Homo sapiens: one gene and its partners. The protein of the gene in region 4 purifies or fractionates together with the protein of the main gene of each other region. This does not show direct contact. Each region holds a gene or a part of one and is shown on either strand. Other genes may lie near its edges.

The links. The genes of interacting proteins can lie anywhere in the genome.
Region 1: the proteins of FMNL1 (region 4) and SIPA1 purify together in Homo sapiens (affinity purification with mass spectrometry, with the first as the bait; one large-scale study listed by BioGRID). This does not show direct contact.
Region 2: the proteins of FMNL1 (region 4) and TIA1 purify together in Homo sapiens (affinity purification with mass spectrometry, with the first as the bait; one large-scale study listed by BioGRID). This does not show direct contact.
Region 3: the proteins of FMNL1 (region 4) and ABCF1 purify together in Homo sapiens (affinity purification with mass spectrometry, with the first as the bait; one large-scale study listed by BioGRID). This does not show direct contact.

The regions. Positions count from the first base shown.
Region 1 is NC_000011.10:65,644,601-65,648,100, forward strand, and holds part of SIPA1 (signal-induced proliferation-associated protein 1), read left to right. Parts: intron 1-354; coding exon 355-529; intron 530-1,253; coding exon 1,254-1,357; intron 1,358-1,620; coding exon 1,621-1,778; intron 1,779-1,855; coding exon 1,856-2,465; intron 2,466-2,783; coding exon 2,784-3,058; intron 3,059-3,500. UniProt on the Homo sapiens protein: GTPase activator for the nuclear Ras-related regulatory proteins Rap1 and Rap2 in vitro, converting them to the putatively inactive GDP-bound state. Affects cell cycle progression.
Region 2 is NC_000002.12:70,231,629-70,235,128, forward strand, and holds part of TIA1 (cytotoxic granule associated RNA binding protein TIA1), read right to left. Parts: intron 1-3,500. UniProt on the Homo sapiens protein: RNA-binding protein involved in the regulation of alternative pre-RNA splicing and mRNA translation by binding to uridine-rich (U-rich) RNA sequences.
Region 3 is NC_000006.12:30,577,942-30,581,441, forward strand, and holds part of ABCF1 (ATP-binding cassette sub-family F member 1), read left to right. Parts: intron 1-134; coding exon 135-261; intron 262-406; coding exon 407-444; intron 445-528; coding exon 529-636; intron 637-1,989; coding exon 1,990-2,064; intron 2,065-2,464; coding exon 2,465-2,578; intron 2,579-3,500. UniProt on the Homo sapiens protein: Isoform 2 is required for efficient Cap- and IRES-mediated mRNA translation initiation. Isoform 2 is not involved in the ribosome biogenesis.
Region 4 is NC_000017.11:45,242,385-45,245,884, forward strand, and holds part of FMNL1 (formin-like protein 1), read left to right. Parts: coding exon 1-81; intron 82-733; coding exon 734-936; intron 937-1,406; coding exon 1,407-1,641; intron 1,642-1,791; coding exon 1,792-1,860; intron 1,861-2,434; coding exon 2,435-2,515; intron 2,516-2,594; coding exon 2,595-2,724; intron 2,725-2,868; coding exon 2,869-3,032; intron 3,033-3,247; coding exon 3,248-3,349; intron 3,350-3,493; coding exon 3,494-3,500. UniProt on the Homo sapiens protein: May play a role in the control of cell motility and survival of macrophages. Plays a role in the regulation of cell morphology and cytoskeletal organization. Required in the cortical actin filament dynamics and cell shape.

The DNA of each region.
Region 1 (3,500 bases), on a different chromosome or scaffold from region 4:
GGTGGTGCCTGGCCTGCAGGGGCTGGGGTGGGGGTGCCTTGGATTCAGGGGTGCAGAGGACAGTCCAGCCTTGAGATAAGGAGGATGATAATGTGTATGTTTATTGGAAGGGTCCTTTCTGTGAATCACCTTCTCTACTGCCACATGGGAACCAGCCTCCTCCCATCCCTTCCTACCTGTGCACTCCCAAGCACGAGGAGCACAACAGACTGTACTCACCTGACAGGCAAGGGCACAAGTGGCTCAGAGAGGGCTGGTGCTCAGCCCCAGGCCAGCGTCCCATCCATTCCCTAAGAGCTGGTGGGGTGGGGCTGCAGGGGACTGAGACCTATGCCTTCTGTCTCCCACCCACAGCTGAGCTTCCAACGCAAGGTGGGCATCCTGTACTGCCGGGCGGGCCAGGGCTCGGAGGAGGAGATGTACAACAACCAGGAGGCGGGACCGGCCTTCATGCAGTTTCTCACCTTGCTGGGCGATGTGGTGCGGCTCAAAGGCTTTGAGAGTTACCGGGCCCAGCTAGACACCAAAAGTGAGGCCCAGGGGCAGGAGGGGTGGGAGCAGATCTGTGCTGAAGGGGTGAGCACAAATTGCCTTGTCACTCCTTTGTCCGTACAATCCTGGGGCTGGGGACTGGAGAGTTCTTTGGGTGAGCTAAGGATCTGAGTCAGGGCTATGAGGGCCAAGCTATGGGCTGAAAAGAGGGGCTGGGACTGTCCCTCAAGGCCCAAGTACCCTACTGCCTGAGCTGGGGCTAAAGTGGTTTGGGGGCACTACCCCTCCACCAAACACATTCCAGCAGCTCAGCCTCGTGGAAGAGAGGTGCCCCTACCTCCCTGGTGGAAGGGGCCCCAGGACCCCTGGGAGGTGTTGTACTGAGCACCCCCTGCCTGCTTTTCACTTTCCCAGCATGCCACACATGCTTGGGCCTGGAGTGACACCTGTCCTCCTAGGACACCTGACCCTGCCCTCCCTCTGAGACCACTTCTCATTTCTGTCTTCATTCTATTTCAACTCTCCCATCCTGACCCCCCTTCACTCTGGCATGGGGCTGGAGCCTGTGGAGGGAGAGGAGGAGGGGCACCCAGGGCTGAGGCCCTTGAATCTCGCTGGCTGGGCATTGGCTGGTGGCATGACTGGTTGTCCACCTGCTGTTTGGGGCACAGAGGCTCCTGTGTACAGGCAGGAATGGCAAGTTCAAGCCACTTAGATTCCCCTTGTTTTCTCCTTCTGTGTCCCTAACTTCCTGGCCACAGCGGATTCCACAGGCACGCACTCCCTCTACACCACATACCAGGACCACGAGATCATGTTCCACGTGTCCACGATGCTGCCTTACACCCCTAATAACCAGCAGCAGGTGTGAGGGGGACCAACGTGGGGGTGGGGCTTCCGGGAACCATGGAGGGCCCTGCATGGCCCATGACGTTTGAGCTTTGGCCGGAGCTCTGTTGGCCCCAACAGCCCGCCCCTCTGGTGGCCCCTTCCCAAAGACAGAAACACCCTAGGTCTTCACCAGGGGCAGTGGGGGAGCCATTGGTGCCTTGGCTTTCTCCTGCCTGAATGAGGAGGGGTTTGGGGCACAGAAGACCTCATCACGAGCCCCTACTATCCAACCCCTAGCTCCTCCGGAAGCGCCACATTGGCAACGACATTGTGACCATCGTGTTCCAGGAGCCTGGCAGCAAGCCCTTCTGCCCCACCACCATCCGCTCGCACTTCCAGCACGTGTTCCTAGTGGTGCGGGCACACACACCCTGCACGCCACACACCACCTACAGGTGGGCACCGGAGTGGTCCCAGGTCTCCCGTGGGCATGGAGTCCTGCCGCCCCTCACTAACGCCTCCCTCCCCGCAGGGTGGCCGTGAGCCGCACCCAGGACACCCCTGCCTTCGGGCCAGCTCTGCCTGCTGGCGGAGGCCCCTTCGCAGCCAACGCCGACTTCCGGGCCTTCCTGCTGGCCAAAGCGCTGAATGGTGAGCAGGCGGCCGGCCACGCGCGCCAGTTCCACGCCATGGCCACGCGCACCCGCCAGCAGTACCTGCAAGACCTGGCCACCAACGAGGTGACCACTACGTCGCTGGACTCGGCTTCACGCTTCGGCCTGCCCTCCCTGGGTGGGAGGCGCCGGGCGGCCCCTCGGGGCCCAGGCGCCGAGCTGCAGGCAGCGGGCTCACTGGTGTGGGGAGTGCGCGCGGCGCCCGGGGCGCGGGTCGCCGCCGGGGCTCAGGCGAGCGGCCCCGAAGGCATCGAGGTGCCCTGCCTGCTGGGCATCTCGGCCGAGGCTCTGGTGCTGGTGGCGCCGCGCGACGGCCGCGTAGTGTTCAATTGCGCCTGTCGCGACGTGCTGGCCTGGACCTTCTCCGAGCAGCAGCTGGACCTGTACCACGGCCGCGGGGAGGCGATCACGCTGCGCTTCGACGGGTCCCCCGGCCAAGCCGTGGGCGAGGTGGTGGCGCGCCTGCAGGTGAGCTGGAGTGGTAAACTGGGGCCCCTGCGCGCGGCGGGGCGGAGCCTGCTTTGGACCCCTCCCTCCCGCCGCCTTTGTCCCCTACTCCTGCGGAAGGGAAAGTCGAGGAGGGCAGAGCCAGCCCCGGGGCTTGGCAAGGCCGGAACTGGTGCCCTCGGGTAAGCGACTTCTGGTCTTCATCCCTCGGGCGGTGGCACACGCGGCCCTCGGGGACTGTGGAAAGTTCCGTGTGGCCTGGGACGCAGTCCAGGGGGCGGGCGCTGGGGCGGCCCCACCTCCCGGCAGCCCCGCCCACTCGTCCCGCCCCGTCCGCAGCTGGTGAGCCGTGGCTGCGAGACCCGCGAGCTGGCGCTGCCCCGCGACGGTCAAGGCCGCCTGGGCTTCGAGGTGGACGCCGAGGGATTCGTCACGCACGTGGAGCGCTTCACATTCGCCGAGACGGCGGGGCTGCGGCCCGGGGCGCGCCTCCTGCGCGTGTGCGGCCAGACTCTGCCCAGCCTCCGGCCCGAGGCCGCTGCCCAGCTCCTGCGCTCGGCGCCCAAGGTCTGCGTCACCGTCCTGCCCCCCGACGAGAGCGGCCGGCCCCGCAGGTCAGGGTGCCGGGGACGCGGGGAGGTGGGAGGGCCGGCAGTTGGCCACCGCGCAGTCTGCGCCTCCCGGGTCGCCATCAGCAGTTTCAGGAACCCAGTGTGGATACCTTTCCTTCTGGAAAGAATCTCCCGTCTCTTAGCCCGTCTGAGCCTGTCTCTTCCTGTCTCTGTCTCTCTCTCTTTCTCTGTCCTTCCTTCCTCTCTCTCTCCTCTCTCTTTTTTTTTTTTTTGAGACGAAGTATCCCTCTTGTTGCCCGGGCTGGAGTGCAATGGCGTGATTTCGGCTTACTGCAACATCCGCCTCCCAGGTTCAAGCAGTTCTCCTGCCTCAGCCTCCCTTGTAGCTGGGATTACAGGCATGCACCACCACGGCCGGTTAATTTTTTCTATTTTTAGTAGAGATGGGGTTTCACCAAGTTGGCCAGGCTGGTCTCGAACTCCT
Region 2 (3,500 bases), on a different chromosome or scaffold from region 4:
TGAACTCCTAAGTTCTGAAGTCTCACTTCGGCTTTTTATGATTTTTCTATCCCCTCCCTGTTATAAGTTACTTTTTACTGCTACAAATGTACATTGCTCCTTGCTGCTACTAGCTTGCTGAGTAGCAGAAAATCTTAGCCAACCTTCTTAAACCTGTTTTAAAATATAGGTAAATAGGCTCTGAAAACTGAAGAGATTCTCTGGTAAGTAAAATTTTAGAATAAGTTTTAGAATGTGAACTTTCTGACATCAATTTTTTGCTTGCTCAGAAGCCTTTAAAAAATTATCTTCCCGCCAGGCGCAGTGGCTCATGCCTGTAATCCCAGCACTTCGAGAGGCCGAGGCAGGCGGATCATGAGGTCAGGAGATCGACACCATCCTGGCTAGCACGGTGAAACCCCGTCTCTACTAAAAATACAAAAAATTAGCCGGGCCTGGTGGCGGGCGCCTGTAGTCCCAGCTACTCAGGAGGCTAAGGCAGGAGAATGGCGTGAACCCAGGAGACGGAGCTTGCAGTGTGCAGTGAGCCGAGATTGCACCACTGCACTCCAGCCTGGGCGACAGAGCGAGACTCTGTCTCAAAAAAAAAAAAAAAAAGAAAAAAGAAAAAAGAAAAAAAATTATCTTCCCAGCCAGGCATGATGGCTCACACCTGTAATCCCAGCACTTTGGGAGGCCAAGGTGGGCTGATCACCTGAGGTCAGGAGTTTGAGACCAGCCTGACCAACATGGTGAAACCCTGTCTCTACTAAAAATACAAAATTAGCCGGGCGTGGTGGTGCATGCCTGTAATCCCAGCTACTCGGGAGGCTGAGGCAGGAGAATCGCTTGAACCCTGGAGGCGAAGGTTGTGGTGAGCCGAGATTGCGCCATTGCACTCCAGCCTGGGCAACAAGAGTGAAACTCTGTCTCAAAAAAAAAAAAAAAAAAAAAAAAAAAAAAAAAATTATCTTCCCTTGGCCGGGCACAGTAGCTCATGCCTGTAATCTCAGCACTCTGGGAGGATGAGGCAGGTGGATCACCTGAGGTCAGGAGTTCGAGACTAGCCTGGCCAAAATGGTGAAACCTCATCTCTACTAAAAATACAAAAATCAGCTGGGTGTGGTGGCGTGTGCTTGTAATCCCATCTACTCGGGAGGCTGAGGCAGGAGATTCGCTTGAACTCAGGAGGGGGACGTTGCAGTGAGCCAAGATGGTGCCACTGGATTCCAGTCTGGGCGCACAGCGAGACTCTGTCTCAAAAAAAAAAACAAAACTTCCCTTTTCTGCTGGTGTTCCAGGTAGGTGAGGCTATGTGATAAATAGAACCTGGATGTTTAATTATAAATTCAAGTAGCAGAAAAAAATTCCAATTTTTACACCTACAGTGCAAAATATCAAATGACATTATAGGCCATTTTAAAATTCTTTCCATAGCCTCCTAAACAGATTTGTTAAAATAAAAAACTAATTCAAAAGACTAGAAAGCTACTAAAATAGAGGAATATACAATTTTATTTCAAGTACAGTTAATTAATTTTTTTTTAGAGATGTGGTCTTGTTATGTTGCCCAGGCTGGTCTCAAATTCCTGGGCTCAAGTGATCCTCCAGCCTCTGCCTCCCAAAGTGTTGGGATTACAGGCATCAGTCACTGTGCACATCAACAATTAATAGTTTGAGAGTCACTGGCAATGACTTGTAAAAATTTTAAAGCAACGAGGCCAAGACAAAGTTTAATATATTGGGACTATATTTTGTCTAAAAAAATTAGAGAATAAAAATGTTATATAACTCAAACTAATAAAACACAATGGGAATTCTATTACCAAGATCAATGCTGACAGGCAACACTGAAATGAAGTTAGAAAAAGTCACTTGCGGCTGGCTGTGGTGGCTCACGCCTGTAATCCCAGCACTTTGGGAAGCTGGGGTGGGCGGATCATGACATCAGGAGATCAAGACCACCTGGCCAACATGGTGAAACCCTGTCTCTACTGAAAATACGAAAACTAGCCAGGTGTGGTGGCGCATGCCTGTAATCCCAGCTACTTAGGAGGCTGAGGCAGGAGAATAGCTTGAACCTGGGAGGCAGAGTTTGCAGTGAGCTGAGATCATGCCATTGCACTCCAGCCTGGGCAACAGAGTGAGACTCTGTCTAAAAAAAAAAAAAGAAAAAGTCACTTGCATTTAAGAGTAAATAAATGAAAAAGAATATGCTTTACTTAATTTATATGCAGAAAAAACTAACTTTTTAAATAAGAATCGAAGCATATATACATATTATCAGTCCAGGGAGCATAAAATTTATAAATGTGAACATTAGTCTCAGAATGTGAACAGACTGGAATTTAGATTTGAATAATAAAAATCTAAGCTTTTGAGCGATCAGAATCCACAAATGATAAAAAGTGGCAAAGGCTAACCTGGTTTTTTCTGTAGCCAAGGCAATCATTAACGTTTTGTCTAATGATCTTTCCCCAGGGAAACATATGACCAGCCAGAGAGAGAGTAGCAGCAGGCAAACCAACAGAGAAGATTTATATTCGGATAAATCAATTAGGGTTTACAGCCTTGCTTTGCCTCATTTCCTCATACATGAAATGAAAATAACACCTTCTTTATGTTTCTATTGAGCATTTATGACAATGTATTAAAGTAACTGACAGGCAGCAAATTTTCCATAAATGCTACCATTGGGATAAGTAAGGAGATCTAGATTAAGGAAAGACTGGTTTTAAATTTCTCTTCATCTTTCCCCATCTTTCCCTCCTGTCTTTCTCTATGGGTACATGGATTTTTTCTCCTTTATCCAAAGGCATACCGATATTAAATGTGATAGAATAAAAGAACATAACTCTTTGTTGATTTCATCTATATAATATGCAGATGATTTTGCAGCATCAGAACAAAGGTCTGACAACATTTTAAGATCTAAGACAACAAATCAAAGCCAATTGGATAAATATATATTTTTGAGACAGTCTCCCTCTGTCGCCCAGGCTGGAGTGCAATGGTGCAATCTCGGCTCACTGCAACCTTCGCCTCCTGGGTTCAAACAATTCTACTGCCTTAGCCTCCTGAGTAGCTGGGATTACAGGCGCTTGCCACCATGTCCGGCTAATTTTGGTATTTTTAGTAGAGACGGGGTTTCGCCATGTTGGTCAGGCTAGTCTCGAACTCCTGACCTCATGATCTGCCTGCCTCGGCCTCCCAAAGTGCTGGGATTACAGGTGTGAGCCACTGTGCCCGGCTAAATAATTACTTTTAAAAATATTAAGTAAAAAAAAGTTGAACTGGAATACAACAGGAAAGAAGGTAACAGATACACATACACACATACATGATTGTCTTTTCTGGAGAAAAGAAAACTGAAAGTTTATAGCAGGCTGGGTGCAATGGCTATACCAAGACCCTGTCTTTCAAGACAAACAAACAAACAAACAAACAAACGAAAAGTTTACAGAAAAGAGAGACCATGGGACAAAAGGATTTCTCTTTAACATAGCCTTTCCCATTAAAAA
Region 3 (3,500 bases), on a different chromosome or scaffold from region 4:
TGGGAGGCATCTGGGTTCCACCAACCCCTTTCCAGCCCATGTTGCTCCATTCAGCTGATGGGGAACCCTCTGTGAGGCAGAAATACAGCAGGGGCCTGGGCTTCATTTTCTCACTGTTCTTTTGCTCTCAGCAGCAAAAAAAAAAGCGAGATACCCGAAAAGGCAGGCGGAAGAAGGATGTGGATGATGATGGAGAAGAGAAAGAGCTCATGGAGCGTCTTAAGAAGCTCTCAGTGCCAACCAGTGATGAGGAGGATGAAGGTAAATGACCTGAGGGGGAATGGGTACCTGGAATCCATGAGTCATGGAGAGTGATACCTCATACCCTGATCTTCAAGTTGGATTCAATTGGGGGGCCAGACATTGTAATTCTTTCCTATCTCATGTTCTCCCCCTGTCATTTCAGTACCCGCCCCAAAACCCCGCGGAGGGAAGAAAACCAAGGTAAGCCATCTGTGTGGTAAACGGAGACTCCAAGGATGCAACCTTGACCATCCTACTGACTTCTGTGGCCCTTTCATTCTCTAGGGTGGTAATGTTTTTGCAGCCCTGATTCAGGATCAGAGTGAGGAAGAGGAGGAGGAAGAAAAACATCCTCCTAAGCCTGCCAAGCCGGAGAAGAATCGGATCAATAAGGTGACAGTGGTGGCTCGATCAGTCACTCTCACTCCATTTAGCACCTTCTGGCCATGGTGGAGTAATTTCCCGCTTTTAAACTAGCTCTTCTCGGTCTGTCTTACTTATACTGTTAAAATCATCTTTTTAGAATACATGCCCAGGCTGGGCACAGTGGGTCACGCCTGTAATCCCAGCACTTTGGGAGGCCGAGGTGGGCGAATCACGAGGTCAAGAGATCGAGACCAGCCTGACCAACATGGCGAAACCTCATCTCTACTAAAAATACAAAAATTAGCCAGGCGTGGTGGCGTGCGCCTGTAATCCCAGCTACTTGGAAGGCTGAGGCAGGAGAATCACTTGAACTTGGGAGGTGGAATTTGCAGTGAGCTGAGATTGAGGCACTGCACTCCAGCCTGGGCAACAGAGCAAGACTCAGTCTCAAAAAAAAAACAACAAAAAAAACCATGCCATTTTTATCACTCAGAAATCTACAGTGATTCTGTTGCTTTAAGCACAGAACCTGAAACAAAGCCCCAGGTCCTTGCTCTTCTACTTGTGACTCTTCTGCGTGTGCATCTTAGTCCATGTCCATTTGAGCTCTTGAGAAAGCCTCCAGTGCTAGTGCCACTCACTCTGGTGGCGCACTTGCCTGACTTATAATCCTTAGCCTTGCTGACGTTCCCTAGTTATCTCTTCGCTATCTAGTCTGAAGCTGGAGGGTAGGGTTTTTCTGGGTCTCATTTTTCGTCAGCAGCACTCAATACAGATGGTCTCCAACTTCTGCTTCGGTGTACGATTTTTCTACTTTATGATGGTGTGAAAGTCATACTCATTTAGGGTACTCCTCAACTCATGATGGGATTATATCCAGATAAACCCATCATAAGTTGGAACTATTTTTTTTTTTTTTTTTTTTTGAGACGGAGTCTCACTCTGTTGCCAGGCTGGAGTGCAGTGGCGTAATCCTGGCTCACTGCAACCTCCGCCTCCCGGGTTCAAGTGATTCTCCTGCCTCAGCTTCCTGAGTAGCTGAGATTACAGGCACGTGCCACCACGCCCAGCTAATTTTTGTGTTTTTAGTAGAGACAGGGTTTCACCATGTTGACCAGGATGGTCTCGATCTCTTGACCTTGTGATCCACCTGCCTTGGCCTCCCAAAGTGCTGGGATTACAGGTGTGAGCCACCACGCCCGGCCAAGAACTATCATTTTTTATTTAAGTTTCTGGTGGGTTTATCGGGATGCAACCTGTCGTAAATGGAGGAGCATGTGTATGGTTAACACAGTAGACTCTCTAGAAATGCTTATTACACAGCAAAGTAGCACAATAATTTGTATGTATGTGTGTAATGTGTATGTGTGTCTCCTCCAGGCCGTATCTGAGGAACAGCAGCCTGCACTCAAGGGCAAAAAGGGAAAGGAAGAGAAGTCAAAAGGGAAGGCTAAGGTGAGAGAGTAACTAGCAGGAGGAGGTATTGGGGCCCAGGAATTAAAACATTTCATCAGGGCTGGGCGCGGTGGCTCACGCCTGTAATCCCAGCACTTTGGGAGGCCGAGGTGGGCGGATCACGAGGTCAGGAGATCGAGACCATCCTGGTAACACGGTAAAACCCCGTCTCTACTAAAAATACAAAAAAAATTAGCCGGGCGTGGTGGCGGGCGCCTGTAGTCCCAGCTACTCGGGAGGCTGAGGCAGGAGAATGGCGTGAACCCGGGAGGTGGAGCTTGCAGTGAGCCGAGATTGCGCCACTGCACTCCAGCCTGGGTGACAGAGCGAGACTCCGTCTCAAAAAAAAAAAAAGAAAAAAAAAAAAAACATTTCATCAGACCTGTCTTTTCCCTATTAGCCTCAAAATAAATTCGCTGCTCTGGACAATGAAGAGGAGGATAAAGAAGAAGAAATTATAAAGGAAAAGGAGCCTCCCAAACAAGGGAAGGAGAAGGCCAAGAAGGCAGAGCAGGTGTGTATTTGGTGTTGGGGCAAGGTGGAATGAGGGACTAGGGCTTCCAGGGTCCTTATGGGAGAGTTAGAATCTGGGGATATAGTTATTATCCCAGCAAACCTTTATTCTTTTCTTTTTTTGGGGGAGTAGTTGGGGTGGTGGTTCGTTTGTTTTTGTTTTTGTTTTTGTTTACACAGGATCTTACTCTGTCACTCAGGCTGGAGTGCAGTGGTGTGAACACGGCTCACTGAAGCCTCAACCTCCTGGGCTCAACAGATTCTCCTGCCTCAGCCTACTGAGTAGCTGGGACTACAAGTGTGCACCACTACCCCTGGCTAATTTTTTTATTTTTAGTATAGAGATGAGGTCTCACTATGTTGCTCAGGCTGGTCTTGAATTTCTGGGCTCAAGCAGTCCTCCTGCCTCAGCCTCCCAAAATGCTGGGTTTACAGGTGTGAGCCAGCATGCCAGCCAGCAAACTTTTTCTATAAAGGGCCATATAGTAAATGTTTTTGGCTTTGCAGGCCACATACAATCTCTATCACATATTCTTTTTTTTTTTTAACAACTCTTTGAAAATACAAAAATTATTTTTATAAAGTTCAGGAGCTATATAAAAATAAATGTCAGGTCAGCCTTGGCCCATGGGCTGTAGTTTGCAACACCTAATCCAGTGAAGAAAGGGCCTGGAATTTATCTCAGATGATCTGGGTCCTGGCTCTGCCTTCACTGGCTGTGTGACCTTGAATACATCTTCCCATCCCCTTGGGTCTCACTTGTCTCCTTTGTGTGATAGAAGGAGGAGTCCGGAGATCTCTAGGGTCCCTATGCGTCTGGCACTTCCTAATTCTGTGATTCTGCTGGATTCCTCTGACTGTGCACTAGAGCTTCCTGATCTTTTTTTTTTTTTTTTTTTTTTTGAGATGGAGTCTCACTCCGT
Region 4 (3,500 bases):
CTCTTGAACTGGGTGGCACTGAAACCCAGCCAGATCACCGGCACTGTCTTCACAGAGCTCAATGATGAGAAGGTGCTGCAGGTGAGTGGCCCTGCCTGGCTCCCCATGTGGGCACCGGAGGAAGAGGGGAGTTGCCTGGATCAGGCTGGGCCCTGGGGGTAGTCATTTTCTCCAAGCCATTTCACAGATGAGGAGGGGGAGGCCCAGGGATGGGCATTAAGCCAGACTGGACCAATACCTCTAACAGGCAGAATCCTGCTTTCCCAAACGCCTTCCCCTCCATCCCTGCAGAGGGGTGCCTCCCCTCACCCCACTTCTTCTGCCTCCAGGCCTCTTTCCTTCCACTTTCCCACAGGCAGCCAAGGCTTCAGCCCTCCTGATTCCACTTCCAGTTTTCCAAAAGGATGTATTCTCTTGCCTCTAGGCCATTGTTCCATTCTGTTTCCTCTGCCTGGAATGTCTTTTCCTTTCTCCTTTTTACCGCTGGCCAGTTCAGCTCTTCCTTTAGCTCTTGTGGCCCCAAGTCTGGATCCCCCGGGTTAGGCGGCCCTCCTCCTCCAGGCTCCCTGTGCTTCCCCTGTGCCTCCCATCAGGGCCTGTGGTCAGGCTGGGTTACTGGTTCTCTGCTGGTGGCCTGGTCAGGGCCAGATGGATGGCTCTAGCACTGTGCTCAGCCAGGAGAGTGCCAGACCCCAGCCCCACCCAGCTCCGCCTCCTCACCCTGTACCTTCAGGAGCTAGACATGAGTGATTTTGAGGAACAGTTCAAGACCAAGTCCCAAGGCCCCAGCCTGGACCTCAGCGCTCTCAAGAGTAAGGCAGCCCAGAAGGCCCCCAGCAAGGCGACACTCATTGAGGCCAACCGGGCCAAGAACTTGGCCATCACCCTGCGGAAGGGCAACCTGGGGGCCGAGCGCATCTGCCAAGCCATTGAGGCGTGAGTGTCCCTGTCCTGGGTTTGTGGGCAGTCCGGCCCCTTTGCTAGGCTGGGGTTGTCAGGCAGATCCTAGTAAAAGAGCCTCAATGGTGAGCTCTTTCATCAGGCTTCATACCAACCCTGGTCCAGGAAACTTGTCCCCATTTTAAGGTGGAGAAAACTCAGTCCATGCCTAAATTAGGATGTCCCACTTCCTCCCTGCCTCTTTGCCTAGCTGTGAGCACCCAGGCTGTGGGATTTACAGCCGGGCGTCCGCCGCTGACGTACGATGGGGACCCTGGCTGCCCAGTTCCCAGTTTCTCTGGATTCCCAGTTCCCAGTTTCTCTGGATTCCTACCTCTTGCTCTCTGAAGCTGTTGGCAAATAGAAAATACTGAAATTCATTTATTCAATCAAGGCAGGGGTAGCCCTGCTCCCAGGGACTGGTGGGTATGGATGATGCCCAATCTCCCCTCTCCTCCCTCTCACAGGTACGACCTGCAGGCTCTGGGCCTGGACTTCCTGGAGCTGCTGATGCGCTTCCTGCCCACAGAGTATGAGCGCAGCCTCATCACCCGCTTTGAGCGGGAGCAGCGGCCAATGGAGGAGCTGTCAGAGGAGGACCGCTTCATGCTATGCTTCAGCCGCATCCCGCGCCTGCCGGAGCGCATGACCACACTCACCTTCCTGGGCAACTTCCCGGACACAGCCCAGCTGCTCATGCCGGTGTGGGCGGAGCGGGCAGGGCGGTGTGACTTGGGAGGGGATGGGCAGGAGGCAACTCCCAGCCTGGGCTGCGGCAGGGAACCTGGGAGTACTTGAGCCTCCAGATGGAGGAGGCTCCAACTTATCTTACCTCCCCCATCCCACCCCCAGCAACTGAATGCCATCATTGCAGCCTCAATGTCCATCAAGTCCTCTGACAAACTCCGCCAGATCCTGGAGGTGAGGGGCCAGGAGGTGGGGCCCACCCTTGCCTGTTCTGGATAGTGTGAGAGGGAGACCCAGGCCCTGCTCACCTGCAATGCAACAAAGATAACATTCCCACTTCTCATGTACATGCTGAGAAGGACAAATCTAAGGGTGGTGGCGAGTGGGAAGGGGTACAGCAGCCGTGTCTGTAGCAGCTCACCTGGGACCCTGCCGGAGGGCTCAGTCCCCTTTAGCGTTGCTCTGTGAGCAACCTCACCTGCTCAGTGGAGGGCCCGGGAACCAGTAGAAATGGCTGGTGGACAGGCAGTGACCACACAGACTAGGAGGGGATGCTGGCAACAAGTTGTGGGTTGGACTAGCAGAGGACAAAATTTGGTGTGCCCATGGTGTTAACCGTGCACATGTGTGAGACCTGTGTGTACACACATGTACATGTGCTGTGGATCTGAGGGGCCTGTGCAGGAGTACAGTAGGGGCTGAGTGTGTGGGGCCTGCTCCTTGCCACCTCTTCTCCTCCTTGTGCAATATGCTTAAGCGGTGTCCTCAGCTCTGGCATTCTGCTGAGCCTTTCTCCTGCCTCTCCCAGATTGTCCTGGCCTTTGGCAACTACATGAACAGTAGCAAGCGTGGGGCAGCCTATGGCTTCCGGCTCCAGAGCCTGGATGCGGTGAGGAGGGGCCCCTGGCTTGGGGACTGGGGCTGGGGACTGGCTGGTGGCCTGTGGCTTACAATGGGTCCTTGTGCAGCTGTTGGAGATGAAGTCGACTGATCGCAAGCAGACGCTGCTGCACTACCTGGTGAAGGTCATTGCTGAGAAGTACCCGCAACTCACAGGCTTCCACAGCGACCTGCACTTCCTGGACAAGGCGGGCTCAGGTAGGAGACACACAGATCCTTGGGTGTGGGGAGGGGCCGTGGGCTGGGGTAGGTTGGGAGAAAGCTAGGGGGCCACAGTATATAATTGGTGGGAGGGCTGCCTCTCCGATTCACTGACCTGATACTGCCCCATCCCTGGCCCAGTGTCCCTGGACAGTGTCCTGGCGGACGTGCGCTCCCTGCAGCGAGGCCTAGAGTTGACACAGAGAGAGTTTGTGCGGCAGGATGACTGCATGGTGCTCAAGGAGTTCCTGAGGGCCAACTCGCCCACCATGGACAAGCTGCTGGCAGACAGCAAGACGGCTCAGGTGCGCCAGGGCTGGCCTCACCTGGAGGTGGGGCATGTAGGAGCACTAGATAGCACAGCCTGGAGGGGTGTGGCCGTAGCTGGGACCCCTTGGGGGGATGCAGCAGGAATGAGGGGCCACCCTGCCTGGGAGGAGCTCAGATCAGGTGGCCAGTGTCCTGAGGGGTACAGGCTGTGAGAGGTCTAAGCTGGGGGGCTGACAGGCTGTGCCCACAGGAGGCCTTTGAGTCTGTGGTGGAGTACTTCGGAGAGAACCCCAAGACCACATCCCCAGGCCTGTTCTTCTCCCTCTTTAGCCGCTTCATTAAGGCCTACAAGGTATTCGGGTCTGGGGCAGGCTGGGAGCCCTGTAGGGCACTGAAGCCTTTCTACTGGGCAGCGGAGGGGTGGGGCTGCTTCTGTTTAGGGGGTGGGTAGGGCAGTAGGGAGGGCCACCCTCATGGAGACTGCCTTGGCCCACAGAAAGCTG